Homo sapiens: one gene and its partners. The protein of the gene in region 4 purifies or fractionates together with the protein of the main gene of each other region. This does not show direct contact. Each region holds a gene or a part of one and is shown on either strand. Other genes may lie near its edges. The genes, in order: PCYT2, MAEA, FLNB, LAD1, RMND5A, ARMC8 and FLNC.

Region 1 (3,500 bases), on a different chromosome or scaffold from region 4:
TGACAATACTTTGCATCCTTCAATCCAGTCAAGCTGACACTCAGCATTCACCATCACACCTGGGAAGCATGGAACCCAGAAACAAGTGCCAGGGCTCCAGTGCCAGTGCCTGTCCTGGGAAGATACCCAAGAGAAGACATGACCAGGACCTTGGGGGAGCATGAAATGGTGAGGGCACAGTGAGCTTGAAGGCTGATGTCACCTGCCAGGAGAGCGGCTGGCAGTCCTGCCTGGTGCCCCCCAAGGGGCAGAGCTGGCAGAGAGGGGCCTCCAATCGAAGGCCAGGAGTCGTGGAGCTCCAGTGCCTTGGTGTGGCTGGCCTTCTTGCCCCCCTCCCAGAGGACCCCGCCAGTAACAGCCCTGCTGGTGGAACCTTCCCCAGTGGGCATGAAAGAAATGAGGGCCCCACAAGCCACATGGACTCTGATGCCTGGAGCCAAGAATACCCCTTAGGGTGGTAGAAACCGCCCCCGGGGCACTGTGCAGTGTGGCTGGCTCTCCAGCATCAGGAGTACTGGGGATTGCCTGGGGGACGACTCCTAGGGCTGGGCGCCCGTGGGCCCTCCCCTGCTGCCACTGCGGCCCACGCAAGCCGGGCCTGAAGGGCGCGAGCGGCATGGGTGGGGAGCTTGAGGGGGCGTTGGGCTCCCACCAAGCGCCAGATCCTTGCGCGCCTCCAGCGCTCGCCCGCGCGGCTGGTTCCTTTGGGATGCGGAGGTGCGACGGCTCCTCCGCGCGCGCCCGCTGCACCCCAGCCCGCCCGCCGCCCCTCCCGGCCCTCCGCAGCCTCGGCCCGCCCTCGCCGCAGATATAAGGCGGCCCAGGCGGTGGCTGCTCCGAGCCCGGACGCCGCCGCCCACCAGTCAGCCGGCGTCCCCATGGCCCGGTCCGCGACACTGGCGGCCGCCGCCCTGGCGCTGTGCCTGCTGCTGGCGCCGCCTGGCCTCGCGTGGTACAAGCCAGCGGCGGGGCACAGCTCCTACTCGGTGGGCCGCGCCGCGGGGCTGCTGTCCGGCCTCCGCAGGTCCCCGTACGCGCGGCGCTCCCAGCCCTACAGAGGGGCGGAACCCCCGGGCGGGGCCGGCGCCTCCCCGGAGCTGCAACTGCACCCCAGGCTGCGGAGCCTCGTGAGTCCGGCGTGCCGGGGACTGATGGGGGGCGGCGGCAGGACGTGGGTGGGGGTGCGGCGGCCCCTCAGCCTTTGCTTGCCTGCCCCCCAGGCTGTGTGCGTCCAGGACGTCGCCCCAAACCTGCAGAGGTGCGAGCGGCTCCCCGACGGCCGCGGGACCTACCAGTGCAAGGCGAACGTCTTCCTGTCCCTGCGCGCAGCCGACTGCCTCGCCGCCTGAGCCCGGACCTCTCCTGGCACCGCTGGGGGCCCCCCGCCCCCACCGTCCCACTCGGTGACCCCAGGCCCCTCCGGCGCGGGATGGCGCCCCAGGTCTCCCCTACTCCGCTCACCCCGCAGTTAATGGCAAACGAATAAATAAATGAGGCGGCCTCGGAGTGAGGGGTGCTGGAGGACTGGCAGCCAGGCCACGAGGGGAACGGGACCTGGAAATCCCCAAGCCTGGGTATGAGAAGGCAGCCGAGTGTGCGGCGGCAGGGCAAGGTTGGCCTGGGCCGCCCAGAGGTCTTCAGACCCAGGGGCGAAGCTGGCCACGACCCAGCCCCGCGGTGAAGCCGCGCCTAGCCTTGGTGCTCCCTGGGGGAAGTGCAGGGCCACGGCTGGCCCGGTTCCCAGTGTCCTCCCCCAGCCCTTCGCTCCCCAACTCGAGAGCCAAATCTGTGAGGGCATGGGCTGGAGCCCCTGGCTGCCTTCCTCTTGCCCCCATCCCTTCTGGCCAGGCCAAGTCCGAGGGTGCAGGGGCAAGGAGGAGAGTTGGGGGCCTGAGCCCTGGCTCCAGAGGCCCAGAGCATGCCTCCCCAGAGCTGAAGGTGGGAGATGGGTAGGTTCTCCCTCCGCCGTTGGGTGTGACTCCGGAACTGGCTTGGGCTCTGGCCTCCAATGCTGCTACGGGGCCAGGCCCACCTCCGGGCCCAGGCAGCAGCACTGCAGGGCCTTTCTACCCTCCCCAAGCCTGGGGCCCAGGCAGCCCCTGTCCAGCACCAATCTGTCTATGGGGAACTGGCTGGTCCCTCTGCTCAGGGGACCCCGCAGTCCAGGGTTCTGAGTGGGAGCATTGGCACCACCCCACTCCTGAAAGCGGGGGCCTGGCAGGATGAGGATGGCCTGTGCCCCCCACACCTTGGCCCCTGGCTCGGAGAGCAGGGTGACAGGCTGCCTTCCTGGGCTGTGGAGAGCCTCGCGTGCACCTCGCCTCCAGCTCCTGTGCTGGGTCGTGAGGTCGACCTCACAACAGCAGAGGACAGGCCCATGGGGTGCCACATGGGCCAGGTGCTGTAGGGCAGAGGCCATTCTGGAGAGGAATGTGGGGCTGAAAAAAGTACTGATCATAAGCCTCATTTTGAATGCGGCGAGACCAGGCAATCTATGGCCTCCCTAGACACCTCCCGGAGGCTGCAGTAAGAACCTCTTCGGCCTCTGGGCTGCTCCAGGCGGGCCGTGACAGGGGTGTGGGAGACAGAGATCCCATGGCCCCTGGAGGGGCCAAGGGGCAAGGAGCCTCAGCTCTGGCTCTCCTCCTTATTCTAGCATCGCCTGCTACAGGGGGTGGCCCCAGGCTTTGGAGGGCTGGAGGCCTGGGTTTCACTCACTGCCAGGCTGCCCGCTGCACTCCCGGCTGCTGGGTGCATGGTGGGGGCAGGGCCAAGAGGGTCTCCTTGCTGAGTGGTTCCCTGGTCCTTCCCAGCAGGGCTGGGAGCCCCGCGCAGCACTGCCACCAGGCTTTATTCGGTTGTACCAAAGAGATTTCCGTCAGCCATGTACAAACAGAACAGAGTCCATAAGGAGAGTGGCGAAGCTGCCGGGAAGGAAGGCAAGCGTGTTTTCCTGGAGCCAGGCGCTGGGTGGCAGGACACCGTGTTGGGGGGTGCCCAGTGGGAGGTGGTGTGGTCTACACCCAGAGAACTAAAGGGGTGACCGCAGTCACTGCTCCCTAAAGCCCTCTGCTCTGCACCTCCCGCCACAGCTGGGTGGGCAGTCAGTGTGGCCTCTGTCCAGGTGGTGGGGGCATCCGGGGACCAGGTGGGGGCGCACGCAGGAGCGGTGCGTTTCAGGCTGCAGGTGCCGTCTGCCCGTCTCACTTCCGGCCTCTCCACTGTGCTGGACACCCTCTCTGAGCAGCTTTGCTGGAAAGAGCGGAGAGCCTGCTGCAAACCAGGCACCTTGTAGGCAGGCAAGGAGGCAGAGTCCTCACCAGCCCTTCCAGAGCCAGGCCAGTTAGAGAGGGCGGCCCTGCAGAGTCCTATGTCCAAACGCAGAAGGCGCAGAAGCAGAGCAGGGGGAGGGCCGGCCAGGGCCTCTGCCAGGTTAGAAGTCACCATCGCGCTCCCCCAGGGGCTGTGCCGCCTGCTGCCTGGCAGCCTCCAGGAAGGCC
Region 2 (3,500 bases), on a different chromosome or scaffold from region 4:
TCCAACCTCAACTTCATCCAACACCAGACACACTCGTCCACCAGGCATCCAATCTCAACTTCATCCAAACCAATCTCAACTTCATCCAACACCAGACACACTCATCCACCAGGCATCCAATCTCAACTCATCCAACACCAGACACGCTCATCCACCAGGCATCCAATCTCAACTCATCCAACGCCAGGCACACTCATTGACCAGGCATCCAATCTCAACTTCATCCAACACCAGACATACTCATCCACCAGGCATCCAATCTCAACTTCATCCAATACCAGGCACACTCATCCACCAGGCATCCAATCTCAACTCCATCCAACACCAGACACACTGATCCACCAGGCATCCAATCTCAACTTCATCCAACACCAAGCACGCTCATCCAATCTCAACTCATCCAACACAAGGCATGCTCACCCAATCTCAACTTATCCAACACCAGGCACGCTCATCCACCAGGCATCCAATCTCAACTTCATCCAACACCAGGCACACTCGTCCCCCAGGCATGCATTCAGGGCCCCGAGTCCTGGCCCTGCCTGTCCCCACAGCAGCTTCAGACAGGTCGTGTGCTCGTGGCAAGCCTCCAACACCCTCCAGCAACACTGTCCGGCAGGTAATTAGGGCTTGCAGGAATATCCTGGCAGCACCAAGAACCTATCTTCCCTCTGACATCCACAGGAAACAGCCCTGGCAGAGTTCCCACTGTGAGGTGTGTGCCGGCTCTCTGGGAGGGAGTGTGGGGCTGGCACTGTGTAGTGGGGCCGCAGGTTACATACCAATTCTGGCTTTCCTTTTAGGGTTTCCATACCAAGGTCCAAACTCTCTTTAGGGGAGCTACTAGCCGCTCTACTTTTTCGTCCCGTCTTTGCTTCGTGCTTGTTTTGGCGGCCCTGAGTGGCAGTGTGTCACTCCTGGCTGGTAACTGCGTGCACCCTGCCAAACTCAGCCAGGGTGAGGTTAAAGCAGCGCTCAGTTTAGAAGACAGAAAAGTTTTGCTAATGGAGGCAGAAGTGTTAACATAAGTTAAAACATTTCTGCAAGCCCCTAGGGTGACAATGCCTTTTAATAAGCAGGTTTAAATTTTGTCCTTTAGGAGTCCATTTCTTAAGCTTCTTTTGGTCTCTACAAAAGTCGGTACTCGGCCGGGCACGGTGGCTCACGCCTGTAATCCCAGCACTTTGGGAGGTTGAGGCAGGTGGATCACAAGGTCAGGAGATCAAGACCATCCTGGCCAACGTGGTGAAATCCCATGTCTACTAAAAATACAAAAATTAGCCGGGCATGGTGGCGCATGCCTATAATCCCAGCTACTCAGGAGGCCAAGGCAAGAGAATCGCTTGAACACCGGAGGCAAGTGAGCCAAGATCGTGCCACTGCACTCCACCCTGGCGACAAAGCGAGACTCCGTCTCAAAAAAAAAAAAAAAAAAAAAAAAAAAAAAGTGGGTATTCATTAACAATATCACAGCCCAGAGCTCTGCAGCCTCGCAGATGGAGAATGACTTCCCAACCAGCTTTTCTGTGTCTATGACTGAGCACAGGGAGCCCATGGAGTACCCCCATGGAGCAGGACTGACCTGTCTCCAGGCTCTAAGCCCAGCAGCCCCAACACTCTGTGTGCACATGGTCAGCCTCCTGTAACCCACTCCTTCTGAGCCTCATGCCAGCTGTACACAAACTGTAATGCCAAATGAGGTGCACTTTTCCAGATTTTAGCCTAAAAGTGTAACACAGCCACCAAAAAAACTCCCAAACCCAACCCCCACCTTACAAACCAAAACCAAACTACTGTGAACCACCAGGCAAGGGGGTGCTGGCTCCAGGGCAGGTGGCGCAGCCTCGGCCCCGACCCACTCCCACCCCAACCTGGGAGTCCGTGCACCTTCATCTTCCGGAGCCGGGACTTGTTGTCATGGCACCAGGCCAGGCAGGTGGCCGTCTCACGCCTCTCCAGGGACTCCTCCACCTCTTTGGCCGTCAGGAACATCTCAATATTCACTAGGTCCTTAGAGGAAGGAAGCAGCACCTGATCAGAATGTGCTGGCTCAAGGCCCCCATGCCACCCTCCCACACCCCAGCCTCCATGAGGCAGGCCCAGCACCGGCCACCACTCGAGATGCATCTCCAGTCCACACTGTGGGTCTGCACTCGTGGACTACTCAGGGCCGCTCTGAGATCCTAGGAACAGAACAGCCCCCAAGGACCAAAAGGTCGGACGCTCACGTAGACAGCAGCCATAGCCGGGCAAGGGAGCCAGGCTGGCCCCACCTGTCCATGGAGAGGAGCTGCTGAGACACACATGCAGGCAGGGCCAGGCCACATGCCAGGCGGCCCTGTCTCCACTCCCCACAGCCCCCCAGCACATCTACAGGCCCTCCCTGGGCAGCCCCCTCATTTCAAAATCAACAGTAAGCAAATAATAACATGCTAAATAATACATAAACACATTATGGCTAATATCGCGGTAGTTACAACCAATGATTTATATGAAAGCAAAGAAAAAAAAAAAAAACAACAAAAAAAACAGAGTAACCCAGGCTTAGCATCAAGTCTCCGCTAGTGGCCGGGCACAGGGGGTGGGTGCTCAGTGCCTAGCAGTGGAACCCATGGTCTCTGGCAGGGGCAGGACAGCAGCTGGTACGGGACTCCACCAGGCACGGCAAGGCTTGGGGCAAGCGCTCAGGTGGTCCTCAGCAGCAATGACTCCCGACCTTCCCCAGTGGGACCAAGGACGGCACCTCCGCCTGCACATAGCCCAGGACCCAACGGCCCAGGATGAGGCCACAGTTCACCACTTGGGTCCCACAGCCCCACGTCTGGACCACCGGCCTCACAGATGCGCTGTTTTCTTTGATGATTACTCTTTTCTGAAACCCCTCATAACGTTGTTTTCTTGCACCTTTTCTTTCATGATTTCTTGTTTCTGAAACCCCTTCATAGCATTTTCTTGCATGTTTGCTTTGATGATTTCTCTTTTCTGAAACCCCTCACAGTGTTGTTTCCTTGCATCTTTTCTTTAACGGTTTCTCGTTTCTGAAACCCCTTCATAGCGTTTTCTTGCATGTTTGCTTTGATGATATCTTTTTTAAAGCCCCTTCATAGCGTTTTCTTGCACGTTTGCTTTGATGATTTCTTTTCTGAAGCCCCTTCATAGCGTTTTCTTGCACATTTGCTTTGATGATTTCTTTTCTGAAGCCCCTTCATAGCGTTTTCTTGCATGTTGATTATTCTTTTCTGAAGCCCCTTCAAAGCATTTTCTTGCATGTGTGCTTTTGTTTGTTTTTTTGAGACGGAGTCTCGCTCTGCCGCCCAGGCTGGAGTGCAGTGGCGCAATCTCCACTCACTGCAAGCTCCGCCTCCTGGGTTCACACCATTCTCCTGCCTTGGCCTCCCGGGTAGCTGGGACTACAGGCGCCTGCCACCACGCCCGGCTAAATTTTTGTATTTTTAGTAGAGACAGGGTTTCACCGTGTTAGCCAGGATGGTCTCGATCTC
Region 3 (3,500 bases), on a different chromosome or scaffold from region 4:
TACGTATTTGTTTAGATCAGGGTCTGAAAAATCCCCTGATTTCTAATTTTCACTTGAAAAATAATCAAAAAGTTTTCCTATACTTATAAAAATGTGTCTCCTCCAAAACACTGGAAAAAATACCAAACTATGAAAACCACTTCACAGCCACCACCCAAGGTAACCACCATAAACACTGTAGTAAATCCCTTCCACACGTCATGATTCACTGTTACATAAAGAATGTAGGTTCATCGCAGGAAAATTAGAAAATTCAGATAGAAAAATCATCCTTTCTCATCCACAGAATCATTTTTTGATATTTCATTATATGTCATCCCAAACTTTTACACTGCTTATACATAGACTATTTTATGTCAATAGAAAGATGTGAATTCCACAGGCACATCTTTGGTGGGTAGGGGGTGGGGGGATTGGGAGGGTCCTTGGCCTTGTCAGCCAAGGCCAGACTCATCCATTTGCCCAGAAAGCCAGATCCTAGTTGTATGGGGGTGGGATCCTAGGGGTTTAGAAGACATTATGGGTGTGAGATACAGGTGTGGTGGCTTTTGTGTTGGGGTGCGCGGGCTCTCCTGGGGTTACTGTGTAGGGTACTCGCCTGTCCTCTGGCTGAGAGACCCCTCTTGATCTGGCCATTCATGCCTGTCCCCCTCCCTCCTGTATCTTAGGCCAGCGTCTAGTTAGCCCTGGCTCAGCCAACGAGACCTCATCCATCCTGGTGGAGTCAGTGACCAGGTCGTCTACAGAGACCTGCTATAGCGCCATTCCCAAGGCATCCTCGGACGCCAGCAAGGTGACCTCTAAGGGGGCAGGGCTCTCAAAGGCCTTTGTGGGCCAGAAGAGTTCCTTCCTGGTGGACTGCAGCAAAGCTGGTAGGTGTCTGGGCCTTTTCAAGGGTGGGGTGGGGCAGGGGCAGGCTGGGCACCCTGGGTACACTGGCCTTCCCTGCTGAGGTCTCCTGCAGTGCCCACCCCCATGTAGGCCAGCCGTTTGCAAGTAACCATCGTCATGACCCTGTTCTCCTGCACTTAATATTTTTAAATGATTTCCTTCTCTTTTGCCTTTTGAACTTGGGTATTTATTTGGGTTTCAAGGGTCGGTTGCCTGGGTTCTGGCATCCAGTACACCTGGGCTGGAAACCTAGTACCGCCACTTCATTCATTCATTCGTTTGTTCTAAAACTTATTTAGCCATGTGACCTTGGAAAGTTATTAAATCTCTTTCCAAAAGTCAGTTTCCTCTTCTCGGAAGTACCTTCCTTAAGGTGCTTGTGAGAGTAAACAAGAAGATTCTCATAGCCAACACTTAGAATAGCCCTTACTGTGTGCTAGGTTTTGACACCCATAACTCTTAAACCTCACAACTAGTTCGTGAGGTATGTGCTGTTCTCATTCCCTGTTTACAGATGGGGAAGCTGAGCTAGGGAGAGGTGAGATTCCAGTCCAAGGTCACCCAGGTAGCAAGTGGCAGGGCAGGGATTCGAACCCACACCGTCAGGCTCTATGAGCCTCTGCTTGTAATTGCCACGCTCTCCCACCTCTTAGGGGCCCCAGCATTATCGTGGAAGCACCTTACCTTTGGCTCTCATATTTCCTCTTCTTCCTGTGCCTGTCCTGATGCATCCGGGTGGAGTAACCACCTTTTGCCTCCTAGGCTCCAACATGCTGCTGATCGGGGTCCATGGGCCCACCACCCCCTGCGAGGAGGTCTCCATGAAGCATGTAGGCAACCAGCAATACAACGTCACATACGTCGTCAAGGAGAGGGGCGATTATGTGCTGGCTGTGAAGTGGGGGGAGGAACACATCCCTGGCAGCCCTTTTCATGTCACAGTGCCTTAAAACAGTTTTCTCAAATCCTGGAGAGAGTTCTTGTGGTTGCTTTTGTTGCTTGTTTGTAATTCATTTTATACAAAGCCCTCCAGCCTGTTTGTGGGGCTGAAACCCCATCCCTAAAATATTGCTGTTGTAAAATGCCTTCAGAAATAAGTCCTAGACTGGACTCTTGAGGGACATATTGGAGAATCTTAAGAAATGCAAGCTTGTTCAGGGGGCTGAGAAGATCCTGAGTACACTAGGTGCAAACCAGAACTCTTGGTGGAACAGACCAGCCACTGCAGCAGACAGACCAGGAACACAATGAGACTGACATTTCAAAAAAACAAAACTGGCTAGCCTGAGCTGCTGGTTCACTCTTCAGCATTTATGAAACAAGGCTAGGGGAAGATGGGCAGAGAAAAAGGGGACACCTAGTTTGGTTGTCATTTGGCAAAGGAGATGACTTAAAATCCGCTTAATCTCTTCCAGTGTCCGTGTTAATGTATTTGGCTATTAGATCACTAGCACTGCTTTACCGCTCCTCATCGCCAACACCCCCATGCTCTGTGGCCTTCTTACACTTCTCAGAGGGCAGAGTGGCAGCCGGGCACCCTACAGAAACTCAGAGGGCAGAGTGGCAGCCAGGCCCACATGTCTCTCAAGTACCTGTCCCCTCGCTCTGGTGATTATTTCTTGCAGAATCACCACACGAGACCATCCCGGCAGTCATGGTTTTGCTTTAGTTTTCCAAGTCCGTTTCAGTCCCTTCCTTGGTCTGAAGAAATTCTGCAGTGGCGAGCAGTTTCCCACTTGCCAAAGATCCCTTTTAACCAACACTAGCCCTTGTTTTTAACACACGCTCCAGCCCTTCATCAGCCTGGGCAGTCTTACCAAAATGTTTAAAGTGATCTCAGAGGGGCCCATGGATTAACGCCCTCATCCCAAGGTCCGTCCCATGACATAACACTCCACACCCGCCCCAGCCAACTTCATGGGTCACTTTTTCTGGAAAATAATGATCTGTACAGACAGGACAGAATGAAACTCCTGCGGGTCTTTGGCCTGAAAGTTGGGAATGGTTGGGGGAGAGAAGGGCAGCAGCTTATTGGTGGTCTTTTCACCATTGGCAGAAACAGTGAGAGCTGTGTGGTGCAGAAATCCAGAAATGAGGTGTAGGGAATTTTGCCTGCCTTCCTGCAGACCTGAGCTGGCTTTGGAATGAGGTTAAAGTGTCAGGGACGTTGCCTGAGCCCAAATGTGTAGTGTGGTCTGGGCAGGCAGACCTTTAGGTTTTGCTGCTTAGTCCTGAGGAAGTGGCCACTCTTGTGGCAGGTGTAGTATCTGGGGCGAGTGTTGGGGGTAAAAGCCCACCCTACAGAAAGTGGAACAGCCCGGAGCCTGATGTGAAAGGACCACGGGTGTTGTAAGCTGGGACACGGAAGCCAAACTGGAATCAAACGCCGACTGTAAATTGTATCTTATAACTTATTAAATAAAACATTTGCTCCGTAAAGTTGCCTTGGTGTTCTTGGATGATGTCGCTTCTGAATAAATTGTTTAATCCTAGGAGTTCAACACCCTCAGCCTGGGTAACAGCAAGACCCAGCCTCTACAAAAAATTAAAAAATTAGCCAGCATGGTGATGCATGCCTGCAGTCCCAGCTACTCAGGAGGCGGAGGCAG
Region 4 (3,500 bases):
TCAGCACAGCTGGGGAAACCCAGGACCCTCCCGAGGCAGGCTCCTCTAGGGCTGGGAGAAGAGACCAAATGCCCTCTAGGCCTGCACTGGCTACTAGCAGCTCAGAAGTGCTTGAAACGTGGCTGGTGTGAACCAAGGCATGCTGTGTGAAATACACACTGGATCTTGAAGACCAGTGAAAGGTCTCATTAAGAACTATGTACATCGGCCAGGCGCGGTCGCTCATGCCTATGATCCTAGCACTTTAGGAGGCTGAGACACGCGGATTGCCTGAGCTCAGGAGTTTGAGACCAGCTTGAGCAACATGGCAACCTCCATCTCTACAAAAATACAAAAAAAAAAAAAAGATTAGCCGGGTGTGGTGGTGCACACCTGTAGTCCCAGCTACTGAGGAGGTTGAGGCACGAGAATCACTTGAACCCAGGAGGCAGAGGTTGCAGTGAGTCGAGATTGTGTCACTGCACTCCAGCCTGGGTGACACAACAAGACTCTGTCTCAAAAAAGAAAGAAAAAAATTGTGTATATTGATTGTGTGTTGAAGTGGCAATATTGTGGATATATTGGGGTAAATGAGCTATAATATTAAAATTAATTTTGTTTTTTCCTTTTTTTTGAAACAGGATCTCGCTGTGTTGCTCAGATTGGAGTGCAGTGGCACAATCACAGCTCACTGCAGCCCCAACCTCCCAGGCTCAAGTGATCCTCCCACCTCAGCCTCCTGAGTAGCTAGGACTACAGGTGTGCACCACTACACCTGGTTAATTTTTAGATTTTTTGTAGAAATGAGGTCTCACAATGTTGCTCAGCTGGTCCTAGACTCCTGGGCTCAAGCAATCCTCCCACCTTGGCCTCCCAAAGTGCTGGGATTACAGGCATGAGCCACTGTGCTGGGCTGCTTTTTACTTTTTTAATGTGACTACTCAAAAACTTAACATTTTAGGCCGGGCGCGGTGGCTCACACCTGTAATCCCAGCACTTTGGGAGGCTGAGGAGGGTGGATCACCAGAGATCAAGACTTGGTGAAACCCTGTCTCTACTAAAAATACAAAAAAAAAAAAAAAAATTAGCTGGGCATAGCGGTGCATGCCTATAATCCCAGCTACTCGGGAGGCTGAGGCCAGAGAATTGCTCGAACCTGGGAGGCAGAGGTTGCAGTGAGCCGAGATAGTGCCATTGCACTCCAGCCTGGGCAAGAGTGAAACTCCATCTCAAAAAAAACTTAACATTTTAAATGTAGTTCAAATCATACGTCTATCAAATTCCTAGTAAAGCTGCAGGGCTTTGGATTAGACTGGGGTTTCTCCAGCTCAGCACTGTTGACACTTTGGCCAGACAATTGCGTGTCCAGGGCTGTCCTGGATCACAGGACGTTTAGCAGCATCTCTAGCCTCTACCTGCTGGGTGCCAGTAGTACATGCCCCAGATGGGACAACCAAAATGTTTCCTGACATTGCCAAATGTCTCCTGGGGGGCAAAGTCACCCCACATAGGAACCACTGGGTTGAACTGTACTCTGGACCCCGGGATGAGAATGGGAGGGCCTCCATCACCGGGGGTGACTAGGAACGTGGAAGGGCGGGCCTGGTCCTGCCTGAAGGAAACAGATGAACTTGCCAAGTGCCTTTCTCTTTTTGGTCCTGGGATTCTTAGGTAATATCCATCAGTGGACAGTCATGGAGATATTTCCTCACTCAATTCCCCATGGAATTTCTTAGCTTTTGGGAAGGGAAGACTTACAAACAAAACCATTTACCCATGGAAAAAACTCCAATATCGCCTTCCTTTCACTTCCCAGGGGCTCTTGGAGCCTCCCTCACCTTTCAGATGGAAAGAGCTTCGTGGAAAGAGTTGAGCCATGGAGCTCCACAGATCTGGATGAAAATCCAGACAACTTTCACTTCTCTGGGGAGCAAGGGGACCCCACACTCTACTTTTGGTTCCTGCCCCAGTCACCCTTCATTCATGGGGCCAAGCAGGCATTCTACAGCCAGCCAGGCAACTCCACCAGTCTATCCATCTACTACTCGCCCACACATCCATGTACTCAGCCACTCAGCTGTTTCCACCATCTTTATCCACCTGCCCTACCTACCACCTCCCACCAGCCCATCTTCCATCCACCCCACCCCTTCCAGTCCAACCAAACAGCAAATGAAAACTGAATGACTATGACAAGCCAGCACCATGTCAGGAACTGTGTGGGCATCACAGAACATGGCAGGGTCTCTGCCCTGGAGATATTGACAATCCAGTGAAAAAGAGAAGTGTGTCCACCAATAACTCCCCCAACCAAAGTGCATAAGTTGTTCTTCAGTGTGAGAGAACAGATGCTATAGGCCAAGATTATCAGAAAAGGCTCATGGAAGAGATGAACCGGGCTGCATCTCAGTGAACAAACAGGCTTTCGATGGGGTGGGGCTGGCAGTCCAGGCAGAGGGAAGGTACCGAGGTTCAGGGTTTGCTGGGGACAGGAGGCTGAGCTTCACCCCGGGAGACAGGAGGGGGTGTGAGCAGGGGAGTACCAGGCTGTGAAAGTCAGCTGGGGGAGCCCTTCTCTGTGGTTCCCCCTGCATTGTCTGCAAATCAGGTTAAAAGGTTCTAGAAAAGGCCTCTTTCTTCCCTCCCAGAGTTATAGCAACGACTGCAAGGCCTCCTCTTGCCACTGCCAGATGCCAAACTCTCTACCCTTTGCTGTCCCAGCCTCTCCTGCTGCTCAGCCCTAGTTCCCACTGAGCCTGTCTCCTCCACAGGGAGTCTGTGGTAAGGCAAGGTCAGGTGATCTGGTTTCTAGTCCTCCTGCCCTTTGGCAAGTTACTTCCTTTTCTCTTCCTCAGTTTTCCCTCCTAAAATGAGAAGGATGAACCACATGAACCGCTCCGATTTTTTTCTAGGTCCAGCATCCCCTGGATTGAGCCAATATTCACTAAAAAATTACTTTTGAGGACCTACTATGTACCAGGCACGATTCCAGGGGCTGGGAACAGCTGGGAATGAGACCAACAGGGTCTTCCCCTTCACAGGGCACACATCCAGCATGGGGGAGTCAGACCATGAGCAAGGAAACAAGCCCATGAACAAAATGACACCAGCTAAGTGTCACTAGGACAAGGGAACAAAGTAAGTGACATGAGAGAAGGTGGCTGGGTGGGAAAGCCCCCTCGGAGAGCCCTGGTTCATGAGGAGGAGGCAGCAGAGCCAGATCCGTCAGCCAGTGTTCCAGGAGGAGGATCCAGCCAGTGCAGAGCCTGCATGTGAGGAGCTGGGTATTCAGGGGAAGACGGGAAACCAGGGCCAGAGTGGCCCACAGGGAAGCTGGAGAGGGAAGCAAGGCCAGAGCAGAGGGCCTTGGAGACCAGGGAAAGGACTTGGGTTTTATTCCAGGTGTGCTGGAGAGCCCTGGAGAGTGTTACACAGAAAAACAACATGATGGGATCGCTCTATTTTTAATCTCTCTGGCTGCTGTATGAAAAAAAAAAACATTGAAAGGGCCAGGGGAGAGG
Region 5 (3,500 bases), on a different chromosome or scaffold from region 4:
ATTTATACATCAACAAATTCCATTTTAATGAACACTATTATGTCACCTGCCAGTCTAAATGAATACGGTGCCAAATAAAAAAGAATTAATTATCTCCAGAGTACGTCTGGAAAAAGAATGGCTAACAAAGTTAAATCTACTTCTAAACCCAACTGGAAACACCAATATACTGACTTTTTATTCTTACCACCTAAAATGGCCTAAATAACTTGAGAACCAGTCTGTTCTTCTCTTAGAATGTTTGAACAATGTCCTCCCAAACTTTTATTTATGACCTACTGATATACTATTTTCCAGACTAGATGTTAAAAACAGATATCAAATTGTATTCAAAACAAAGTCACTATTCTCTCAAGAGTGTCTTGTTAGTATTTAGCAAAAGTCTGGGTAACAAATGGGCAACCTGGCTATGAGGCCTACTCCATGCACACCAAAGAATAAGGCTAAAAAGGTAAACAAGCTACAAGTCTACCAAGCCCCGATATAATACATTTACTTTCATTCAAAACAATATATTCAACACTGGTCGGCTCTGAAAAAGCACAGATCATTCATATATACAAATAAGCATACTTTTCAACACATGTGTTTAATATACACAACCCAAATTCTAGATTGGAAGATTATACCTAACATGCGACCCTCAACCTCTGGTTTTTGTGTACTGATGCAATATCATACCACAGCAATGAGTTAAAAATGTGACCTCCACAAGTTTCTTTTTTTGTTTTTCATGTTTTACTTGCCTACTTACCTTCTCATTTGTTACCTTCACATTTTTAAAAAGAAAGCAGTTCTCCAACTGGTAACCAAAGTTTCAACAGTTTCTTTGATTCACCAAAGAGATAAGGGTAGGAGTTATGGTTTACATGAGTTTTACTACTAGAAGTCACAACATACACACACACCAAAGGAGTTTTAGGTGCTAATACAGTATATGTTGATCACTCCCACAGATGAAGACATCTTTACCAACTTGCAAAGTGAGATAACACTAAGCCTTAATCATAGTAAATGGAAATACATATCTGATGCGTTAAAGAAAAAAGGAAAAGTGACAAATCGTCATTTCACTGGATTCTTTTAAAATTTTTTCTGGAGGTCGGGCGCAGTGGCTCACGCCTGTAATCCCTGCAGTTTGGAAGGCCGAGGCGCGTGGACTGCTTGAGGTCAGGTGTTCAAGACCAGCCTGACCCACATGTTGAAACCCCGTCTCTACTAAAAATACAAAAATTAGCCAGGCATGGTGGCAGGTGGTGCCTGTAATCCCAGCTACTCAGGAGGCTGAGGCAGGAGAATTGCCTGAAGCCAGGAGGCGGAGGTTGCAGTGAGCTAAGATCGCACCACTGCACTCCAGCCTGGGTGACAGAGGGAGGCTGTCTCAAAAAACAACAAAAAAATTTTTTTTCTGGAGACTGGCATTTATGTCTGTGAAGTGGGCAACCAGGTGGTCCAGGAACAAGAGTAGAAAGATTTTTCAATGGGTGTCCTTTTTTATCATTTGAGTTTATACCATTTGAATGTACTATTCACTGGGTTATCTTTTTCATTGTTTGAATGGATACCATTTGAATGTATGACTTACTAAAAATTAATAAATAAATTTTAAATTTAGAAAATTCCTTGAAAGTCACTTTCAGAAACCACATTAGAACTCCGTTAGTCTAAAAATAATCAGAAAAGAATACTGCATGTCCTTTACTCTTACAAAAACTGCAATTTTCCCAAGTATACTTTTAAATGTGTCCTGAAACCATTACCAACTGTTTCTGCCTAATTTTCTTTCACAAAGTATGAGTGCAGAATACCAGCAAAACATGATAAATAGTTCTTTTCTGTTTTTCCCTTCCACCACAGAGGTGCTAATGGGAAACAATATAAATTTGCCAATAGGAAAAAAATGCTAAAAGGCATATACTCACAAATCAAATCACTAAAAGTTAACCATACAGTAGTTAACCCTGTTAAGCCAGGGTTATCCAAAGCACCGCTCCCATACCACTGATGCGAATGGTAATTTTAGCTAGTATGTAAACTAATATTTTAATTGTTATGAATTTATTTTAACATGTAGTTTATTATACCTAATACCTACATACCACATGTAGGACTACACAAATATCACTGCCTAAGATAAATCTACTTAAGTAAAATCGTGAATCCATCTGAAAAATAAGAGTGCACATGTGTATGAGTGAAGTTTTAGAAGCACCAGTGCACTATACAAATTAGATCGAGGCACACTGGGAATGACCACCAGCCTACATTAACCACAATGAACTTAGACCAAACTTCGTGCTCACAGGGAAACTCTCACTGAAAGGCTGGCACAACTAAATGACAGAAGCTGTGATCTCTATTCCTCTTACCTTGGACACCTCACTGCAGGCTCTGGATCACTCCCCACCCTCCTATCTACCACCCTAAGGTTTCTAATTCCAAAGGCATGAAGAGAAGTCTAGAGTCAGTCTCCAGGGAGAGGAATGTCTTGGCCTCGGCAGAGCTCTTCAGTATTCTCCCTGGTTCTTATTGCCTCTTCATGTTTCTATTACACCTATGTTGTCCCTGAACCACCAATATTCCCTAACTGTCTATGGCACCAAGTCGAAGCCTGCACTTCCCTCTCAGAGCCTTATATTCCATTATTGTTCTCTGCTGCAGGCCTGATACCAGTCCAACCCCATTTAAAAGAAAAAAAAAAAAAGATATTCCTGTTGTCAGGCTGACGGATTTGGCCAGAGGTGGATTAAATGGCAGAGCACAAACCAATTCACCAGGTATGAGAGACCAGCCCATACTATCCTCATTTCCCCAAGTGTATCTGCATTAAGAAACTTGCATTTTAAAAAAGATTAACGAGAGAAATTTTATGTAAAAGAATTTCAAGCTACTTAAAGGTGATTTAGACCACCTGAGAAATTTTAGGGCTCACTGCAGGACTATCTCCCAGCCAGCAATCAGGCAGTATTTACAATCTGGAATAAGGGTGCTGAGACTAGAAAAGGGTTGTCAATGGGCTTACTAACTAAACTCTTATTTATGTATGATCAGTTTCCATCACAAACTATCCTAACAGCTCATTTAGTATATAGCTGTCTGCTCACAACTTCAGAGATGAAAAAAAAATTTTAACATAAAACATTCATCCTCAGAAACTGAACCAATCCCTTTAGGTTGGCTAAAGGATGCTTCTGCAACAGTCATTCACCAGTATGATGCAATGATGTGTTCTATATAGTCCTCAAAAATTCTGTTTTATTCATACCAGATTCTTGCAAGTATTACCACAAGTAATCTCAGAGAATGAGGTCCAAAGTCCTGACAGAGGGGTCCCAATTAGAGCCTCTCAGGTTATCAGAATCATTTGCCCAGACAGGTATATTCAGAAGCCCAAAAATCTTCCCTTTAAACTTGAAAATAGAGTTCCAAACTCAGTTTTCAGTAAAATACCTTTGAGAAGGGCATATTTAAGTTTCAATGTAATATCTACCACATCACCT
Region 6 (3,500 bases), on a different chromosome or scaffold from region 4:
CTTGTTAACTGAAATAAAGTGAGGTACATGGAAACATTCAATTTATTAGTTGTGCTTTTTGCATTGATTTTAAATCAAAGCTACTCACACATCAAATCTTATTGCTATTACTTCAGTTTCTTCAAGAAATGGTTCCTTTTCAAGTTATTTCAACAAATGTAAGGTTGTTCCATACTCCTCTTTCTACAGGCCTGAAGAACTTCTCTGAATCATGGTAAACTCTAATACTTTGTGATTTCTCTCACAGTGCTCCTTAAAATACTAATGCAGATGGAGAGATTTAGTAAATCATCATGTTCAGTAAATAATGACTAATTTGCTCTTTCTGCTATGGCTCCTCAAGACAGAACATGTGGTTTTGCTCTCTGATGGTCTTGAAAGCCTTGTGTAGAATTTATTAGGTTATACATGTTTTTGAGTGGTAAGTTCCAGCTTTTTGGTTTGTGGAAGGAGCCAAGTCAGAGCTTACTTACCACTATACTCCTCATCTAGAAGTATTCTCATCAAGAACATGAGTTCAGTGTTAGACTAGGCTTTAGTAACATAAGGGTGCTATACCAGTGCATACATTTTCTGGGGAGCTGGAAAATTCAGATGACCACTCACTAAACATAAAATCATCATTCCACAAAGATTTTATTCACATTAAACTTGCACAGTAGCAAAAAAAATCAAAACATAAAACTAAGCCACATATCAAAGAACAATATACAATAGAGATTTGAATTTCTCAATAGCATTGGAAGGTATTTCCATAAATAACATTTACAATTCTAATGTTAGGACTTTCAAGGTGTCTGAAGCTTCACAGTGCTAGAATTGATTTTTATCAGAACACATGCAAAAATGTGCAACATAATAATTCATATTAATGACACAAAAAAAAAGCACGCCAGTTATTTGTCATTCCAGCACGGCCATGCCACTCTATGTTCTAAAAACAAACAAACAACCCCCCAAATCCGGGTCCCATTCATTCTTCAATTATGCCTTTAGTCACTCTGCTTTATTATATTCAAACAGTCACTGTTAGTGCTCTTCACCACGACTTTCAGGTTGACGTCACTCCCTGCCTGCTGGCTGTCAGGACTGGGGGACGCCCCTCTCCCAGACTCACCTTCTTCCGGATGTCTTCATCATTTGCTCCAAGAGAGGCATAGAGCTTGAATGCAGCCTGGCGGAGTTCGTGAGCATGTTTTAAATCATGATCAAGCTATGGGGAAAAAAAGGATATGTTCCAACTCAGTCCATAAATTCAACTTTCAATAACATTAACTGAGTTGAAGAAAAAAAAAGTTTACAACTTTTAGATTTTAGTGAATTTCCCAGTCATTAACTACATTTCCCAGTTATTTTTGGATTCTGTTCACATAGCACTGAGACTTTGCAGTGTTCGTATCAATGTGACCTAAAATGCACACAATATGCTTCCATTTAAAAGTGAACACTATATTTGACACTGATATATGAAAAACCATTGTGAATCTCTGACTCCGAAAAATTCAGTGTTCCTAAATGGTAGCTTTACTGGCACTAATGCTTGCTTGCAGCAGCTCTTTGAAATGTTCTCCTTCAAAAGAAGGCACACCTGGACTTCTCTAGCCCCAGACTACAGCTGATAACCTGAATGAAATCGCAACAATGTCTTTAGGAGGGTTCCCTTAATTTTCTGAAACATTAAGAGTAGTGCTGGCCTAATTTTGGCATTTAAAAAGCTTTTAGAGGCCGGGCGCGGTGGCTCACGCCTGTAATCCCAGCACTTTGGGAGGCCGAGGCAGATGGATCATGAGGTCAGGAGATCTAGACCATCCTGGCTAACACGATAAAACCCTGTCTCTACTAAAAATACAAAAAAATGAGCTGGGCGTGGTGGCAGGCGCCTGTAGTCCCAGCTACTTGGGAGGCTGAGGCGGGAGAATGGTGTGAACCCAGGAGGCAGAGGTTGTAGTGAGCCGAGATCGCGCCACTGCACTCTAGCCTGGGCAACAGAGCGAGACTACATCTCAAAAATAAATAAATAAATAAAAATAAATAAAATAAAAAGCTTTTAGAAACAGAGAACCCATTGTGAAAATGCTTAACAAACCGTATACTATGGTAACCATTATTATCTATTACAGTTATCTGAGATTTATGTTGGGTATGGGTTTTTTCAAGAACATTATCAAAATTATCAGCATGAAGCAATTAATGGTATCTTTAAACATGCATAACTAATTATCAACTCTTCTATAAACTTGATCACCAAACTACTGTAAAGATAAAACAGAAGCATATTTTCAGGATACTTTCAATGACTGACTATGACCAAGTAACTATACAAAGTCTACCAATAATATAAATAACCTCGTAACTAAAAGCCTTAATGTAATCATCCAAATGAATACCACTTTTCCCAAAGAAGTTACTTTGGAAAGGTTCACTCATCCAATGATGTAGGTGTTGTTCATAACATTCTGAGACCCTCTTTTGAAACTTCCTAAAGAGCTAACTGGTATTATTAGCTAGAAAACACTGACAGTGGTATAGCTTGATCAATGATGAGACTTTTAGTTGTCACTGACTGTGTGTGAAGATGGAGAAATTCAGTTGGGTAATATAACGTAGGTAACAAAAAATTCCACAGAAAGCAAAAGACAATATATATATTTTACATATATATATAATTTGGGGTGGCTCTGAAGGCAATTCTTAATAGTTCCAAAACTTCTGTTCAAAGCAGACACTGATGGATTATAGGAAGAACTTCCCAATACAGAATACTCACTTTGATAAGTTCTAAAAGTATCTACTCTTAAAGTCTTAACTACATTCTAGTCATAAATTAAGATATAATACTGACTTGAACTAACATATCATGAAAATCACAAATTTATTAACATGTGAAGATTTCTCTTTACGGGTCTAGTGTCTATACTTTTCGGGTCAGAAACCTTTGGATAATCCATCATCAAAAATAAAGATGACAAAACAAACTATTACTCAAGTTTGGTATTACGATGTCATTTTTAAGGATTATTGTTGTTACAGTTTTACTCTGATGGAAATGAAATGGAAAAACTAACAGAAGGGATAATCTACGTACTAGTTAAATGATTTGCATATGCATAGGCTACATGTTCTTAAAATTGTTTCCTTACTCTCATGGCCATCAAAACATTTTATTTGCCTTCCTGGGGTGGTCAACTCAGGGCGTTCATGAGGCAGTAGCTAAGGGTTGCTCATGTATCTTTGTATTGGTAAGATACAGTGTCAGTGTGAAAAAATGACCAGAAGGAAAACAGACAAGGCAACTGGTTAAATGTATGTAACCCATCACTTCTACTGGAAAAACACCACTACTGAAAGAAGAGCAGACACATAAGTTTAATACCCAGAGAGTAGAGTACATTACTAATACAAATACCAGTGAAGGTTATTTTAGGCCCTTCTTAAGACAGAGTAAAGATATACCCTTAATAGTTTGCTTTATTTTCAAAGTTAAAAGCCAAATGAACAAC
Region 7 (3,500 bases), on a different chromosome or scaffold from region 4:
GTTTGGGGGATGTCAGGGCAACACTGGGATTCCTCCTAGCCCTGGCCCTTCCCTCCCCCATCAGTTAAACCTCCTCCTCTGCTCAGACCTGCCCTGGCCTTCGGGGCCAGTCTGCCAGCATCAAGCCTGGTCCGCAGCACCCTCCCATCCCGCCGTGAGGACCCGGCCGGCCCAGTGTGCGGTGCTCACCCTCCTGCTGCCGGGTGATGCTGCCGAAGGATCCCAGGCGCTCCCGGCCCAGGAAGTCCCCAAACACAGCAGGGAAGGGGTCCCCGCCGACCTGGGTGGACTCCTCCACCCGCACCTCGCGCTTTGTCTCCCCGCCCCGCGTCTTGCTGATCTCCGTGCGCTCCGTGCGGGTGTAGGTGTGGCTGCTGCGTGTGAAGGTGCGTGTCAGGCGCTCCTGGGCAGACACCATCTGGAACCAGTTTCCTGTGTGGTCAAGGGAGCCAGGGTGAGGGAGGGAAGCGAGGGGTGAGGAAGCAGGGTGGAGGCCCGACAGGTGGGCTCTGGCCCGGGCCAGCCCTCTCCCACCACCCGCCCCACCCAGGGTCCTCCAGGCTTCTACCTGGGATCTTGAGGTTGAGGTCACAGGTGCTGCCGATGGTGGCGATGGAAGGTGCCTGTCTCCGCCGGGTGATGCTCTCCTTCATGCGGCCCTCGCCGGTCACCTTCACAGTGAAGGGGCTTCCTGAAGTGGGGACAAAGGGTGGGTCAGGAACCTCAGAGCCCCAGCCTCCTGGCCTCCCTGTCTCTCGCCACCGACCTCTGCCCAGAGCCTTACCAGGCACGTGCTTGTCAGCAAACTTGATGTTGATGATGTAGGTGCCGGGCTCGGTGGGGCAGTAGGTGACTTTGCATGTCCCGTCCTCCATGTCCTCACAGTTGATGTCCACCTTGCTTGGGCCTTCAATACTCAGCCCCAAGCCCCCATAACCTGGGGGAAAGCAAGGAACACATCTCCCTCAGTCCTAGGCTGGCCAAGCCACAATGCTTTCCTCTCCCCAGACTGCAGGCTCCACCCAGAATGGGCACCGATGTGTGTAGTGACCACTAACAAAAATGGCTCAGTGGGAGGAGCGGGGGCACCACGGGACAGGCGGTCTGGAAAATTCCCTAAGGTAAGCCTCTTGGATTCCAGTGAGCAAGGGAGGGACAGAAACTCAGGACAGCTGAGCTTTCTCTTAAAAGGGAGAGAACTGATGCGGGGCCATTCACTTTCCCGCAAGGGGCCCCAGAATGCGAATCCTGACGCAGACTGGTCAGGAAGTTTCAGGGAGGAGAGAGTGCGGCCAAGGGGGTGCTGGGCAGGACGAGGACAAGTGCCTGTGGGAGGCACCCGCTGGAATGGGGGCTCTCTGGGGCAGGAGGTACCTGCATTGCGAGTGTCCACGATGAACTCTGCCACCTGGAATGTGTGTCCCTCGGAAAGCCCCTTGCCCCAGACCCGCACCTTGCTGGCGTCCCCGATCTCAGATGGCCCCACCAGGATCTTGAAGGGGCTGTTGGTGACATGCTTGCCACTCTTGCGCACGCTCACCACGTGCTCCCCGACCTCCTTGGGGGTGAAGGAGATCCCTGTGGAAAGTGGGTGTTAGGCAGAGCATCCTGTGGGCCCCCACCCCTGAGGTCCCCGTGAGGCCCCACGCTCACCAATGTGCCGGTTGGGCAGGCGCTTCAGCAGGCAGGGCTCCTCGTTGCCCGAGGGGGCACGGATGCTGGCGGTCAGCTGGCTCAGATCACTCTCGGTGATCTTCAGTGACACGTCCGTGGAGGTGCCCACATTCAGCTGTGAGGTCCTCATGGAGTCATCACCTGGTGGGGGAGTTGGGGCATCAGGCTGCTATGACTCCAGGCAGGCCCTGCCCTCACAGGGCTCAGGAACCCTCCTGAGCAGCCCCCCCTGGACTCAACAGACACGGGGGGCCACTCCCAGGTGCACGGAGGCCCAAGGCCTGGAAAGTGCAGTCTGCACTCACATGTGAGCTGCCAGAGACTAAGAGGGGCCTGTACCCCAATTCCACTGTGGCTGCCTCAGTCCTTGTGGGCTAAATCCCTAAAGGAAACCTCCTGCATTTTAACCCTGAGTCACATGATGTTGTGATAACAAAACACTAGACTGGACCGCCCAGACCCCTTCCTCGCTGTGTGGCTGTAATCATGTTGCTTGGCCTCTCTGGGACAGGGGTTCCTTATCTATCAAAAGGATTATCCGTGCCCTAACTTCTTAAGAGTGACTTCATGCTGGGCGTGGTGGCTCACACCTGTAATCCCAGCACTTTGGGAGGCCGAGGCAGGTGGATCACAAGGTCAGGAGATCGAGACCATCCTGGCTAACACGGTGAAACCCTGTCTCTACTAAAAATACAAAAAATAGCCAGGCATGGTGGCGGGCGCCTGGAGTCCCAGCTACTTGGGAGGCTGAGGCAGAAGAATGGCATGAACCCGGGAGGCGGAGGTTGCAGTGAGCCGAGATCGTGCCACTGTACTCCAGCCTGGGTGACAGAGCAAGACTCCCTCTCAAAAACAAAAACAAAACAAATGACTTCAAAGACTAAATGAGGCAATGTGTTTTCAGGCACAAGGAGTGGCTGACTGCTTCTTAGCTGCCGTGGAGAACAGAGTGTTTTTACATTTATCAAAATATGACCCCTCACACCTTGAAGGGCCTCTGCCCTAATGTCACGAGTGACTTGAACGGGCTGGGCTTGCACATGAGTGCACTGTATGCGGTGTGTGTGCCTCATGGGCTGTACATGCCCATACACCCGCCTCACCTGTGATCTTGGCTGTGAAGGGGCTCCCCGGGATGTGCTTGTCATCGAAGCGCACGATGATGCTGTAGTCTCCAGGCGCAGTCGGCAGATAGGACACGGTGCAGGTGCCATCCTTGTTGTCCTTACAGGTGATCTCTGCCTTGGATGGGCCCTCCACGGCCAGTGACAGACCCCCTGTAGGTGGAGGTGTGGCCAAGATCAGAGGTCCTGCCCTCACCCCTGCCCCTGGTGAGTCTCCACCCCAGCCTGCGACCTGCAGCTCCCTCACCTTCTCCAGCATCTTTGGTGACAATAGTGAAGGTGGCTGGCTTGTTGACCATGCCATGGCTCAGGCCTGGCCCATAGGCACTGACATGGCGGCTGTTGATGGCATCCACATAGAACTGTAAGGGGCTCCCTGGGGATACAGAGAAAAAGGGGGCTGGGTCAGCATCAGGGATTATCTGAGCCCACCTTGGCCCCAGCACCTTCCAGCAGCCTCCCTGCCAACCCCCTCCGTCTGTGCCGTAGGGACCCAGCTGGTGGAGGTCTGCTTCCCACCAGGGTATAAGCCTCCCTGGGGCCTCGCCTGGTGTCTGCACACAGCGGGTGCTCAATAAATATTTGTTGAAAGAGGGAAGGCAGGACTGAAGCTACGGCCTGCTCCTCTCACCCAAGCCCCAGCCCAGCCCAGCCCCTAACTCACCAGGGATGTGGTTGCCGTCATACTTGATCCCCATCTGG

Evidence for each region.
Region 1: the proteins of LAD1 (region 4) and PCYT2 fractionate together in Homo sapiens (co-fractionation; one large-scale study listed by BioGRID). This does not show direct contact.
Region 2: the proteins of LAD1 (region 4) and MAEA purify together in Homo sapiens (affinity purification with western blotting; one study listed by BioGRID). This does not show direct contact.
Region 3: the proteins of LAD1 (region 4) and FLNB purify together in Homo sapiens (affinity purification with mass spectrometry; one large-scale study listed by BioGRID and IntAct). This does not show direct contact.
Region 5: the proteins of LAD1 (region 4) and RMND5A purify together in Homo sapiens (affinity purification with mass spectrometry; one large-scale study listed by BioGRID and IntAct). This does not show direct contact.
Region 6: the proteins of LAD1 (region 4) and ARMC8 purify together in Homo sapiens (affinity purification with mass spectrometry; one large-scale study listed by BioGRID and IntAct). This does not show direct contact.
Region 7: the proteins of LAD1 (region 4) and FLNC purify together in Homo sapiens (affinity purification with mass spectrometry; one large-scale study listed by BioGRID and IntAct). This does not show direct contact.

The regions. Positions count from the first base shown.
Region 1 is NC_000017.11:81,901,400-81,904,899, forward strand, and holds part of PCYT2 (ethanolamine-phosphate cytidylyltransferase), read right to left. Parts: coding exon 3,434-3,500; 3' UTR 1,350-3,433; coding exon of another isoform or gene 1,221-1,349; 3' UTR 1,128-1,220; coding exon of another isoform or gene 879-1,127; 3' UTR 1-878. Other genes in the region: NPB (neuropeptide B preproprotein), read left to right, coding at 879-1,127, 1,221-1,349. UniProt on the Homo sapiens protein: Ethanolamine-phosphate cytidylyltransferase that catalyzes the second step in the synthesis of phosphatidylethanolamine (PE) from ethanolamine via the CDP-ethanolamine pathway.
Region 2 is NC_000004.12:1,320,891-1,324,390, reverse strand, and holds part of MAEA (E3 ubiquitin-protein transferase MAEA), read right to left. Parts: intron 2,011-3,500; coding exon 1,888-2,010; intron 1-1,887.
Region 3 is NC_000003.12:58,168,922-58,172,421, forward strand, and holds the end of FLNB (filamin-B), read left to right. Parts: intron 1-668; coding exon 669-872; intron 873-1,575; exon of another isoform or gene 1,576-1,653; coding exon 1,654-1,841; 3' UTR 1,842-2,855; coding exon of another isoform or gene 2,856-2,952; 3' UTR 2,953-3,149; coding exon of another isoform or gene 3,150-3,240; 3' UTR 3,241-3,330; downstream 3,331-3,500. Other genes in the region: uncharacterized protein LOC124909485, read left to right, coding at 2,856-2,952, 3,150-3,240. UniProt on the Homo sapiens protein: Connects cell membrane constituents to the actin cytoskeleton. May promote orthogonal branching of actin filaments and links actin filaments to membrane glycoproteins. Anchors various transmembrane proteins to the actin cytoskeleton.
Region 4 is NC_000001.11:201,389,325-201,392,824, forward strand, and holds part of LAD1 (ladinin-1), read right to left. Parts: intron 1-3,500. UniProt on the Homo sapiens protein: Anchoring filament protein which is a component of the basement membrane zone.
Region 5 is NC_000002.12:86,723,291-86,726,790, reverse strand, and holds part of RMND5A (E3 ubiquitin-protein transferase RMND5A), read right to left. Parts: intron 1-3,500.
Region 6 is NC_000003.12:138,242,801-138,246,300, reverse strand, and holds part of ARMC8 (armadillo repeat-containing protein 8), read right to left. Parts: intron 1,214-3,500; coding exon 1,118-1,213; coding exon of another isoform or gene 1,052-1,117; exon of another isoform or gene 1-1,051. UniProt on the Homo sapiens protein: Component of the CTLH E3 ubiquitin-protein ligase complex that selectively accepts ubiquitin from UBE2H and mediates ubiquitination and subsequent proteasomal degradation of the transcription factor HBP1.
Region 7 is NC_000007.14:128,850,906-128,854,405, reverse strand, and holds part of FLNC (filamin-C), read right to left. Parts: coding exon 3,463-3,500; intron 3,175-3,462; coding exon 3,046-3,174; intron 3,006-3,045; exon of another isoform or gene 2,952-3,005; coding exon 2,778-2,951; intron 1,816-2,777; coding exon 1,654-1,815; intron 1,579-1,653; coding exon 1,375-1,578; intron 1,122-1,374; exon of another isoform or gene 1,009-1,121; intron 938-1,008; coding exon 785-937; intron 692-784; coding exon 569-691; intron 433-568; coding exon 190-432; intron 1-189.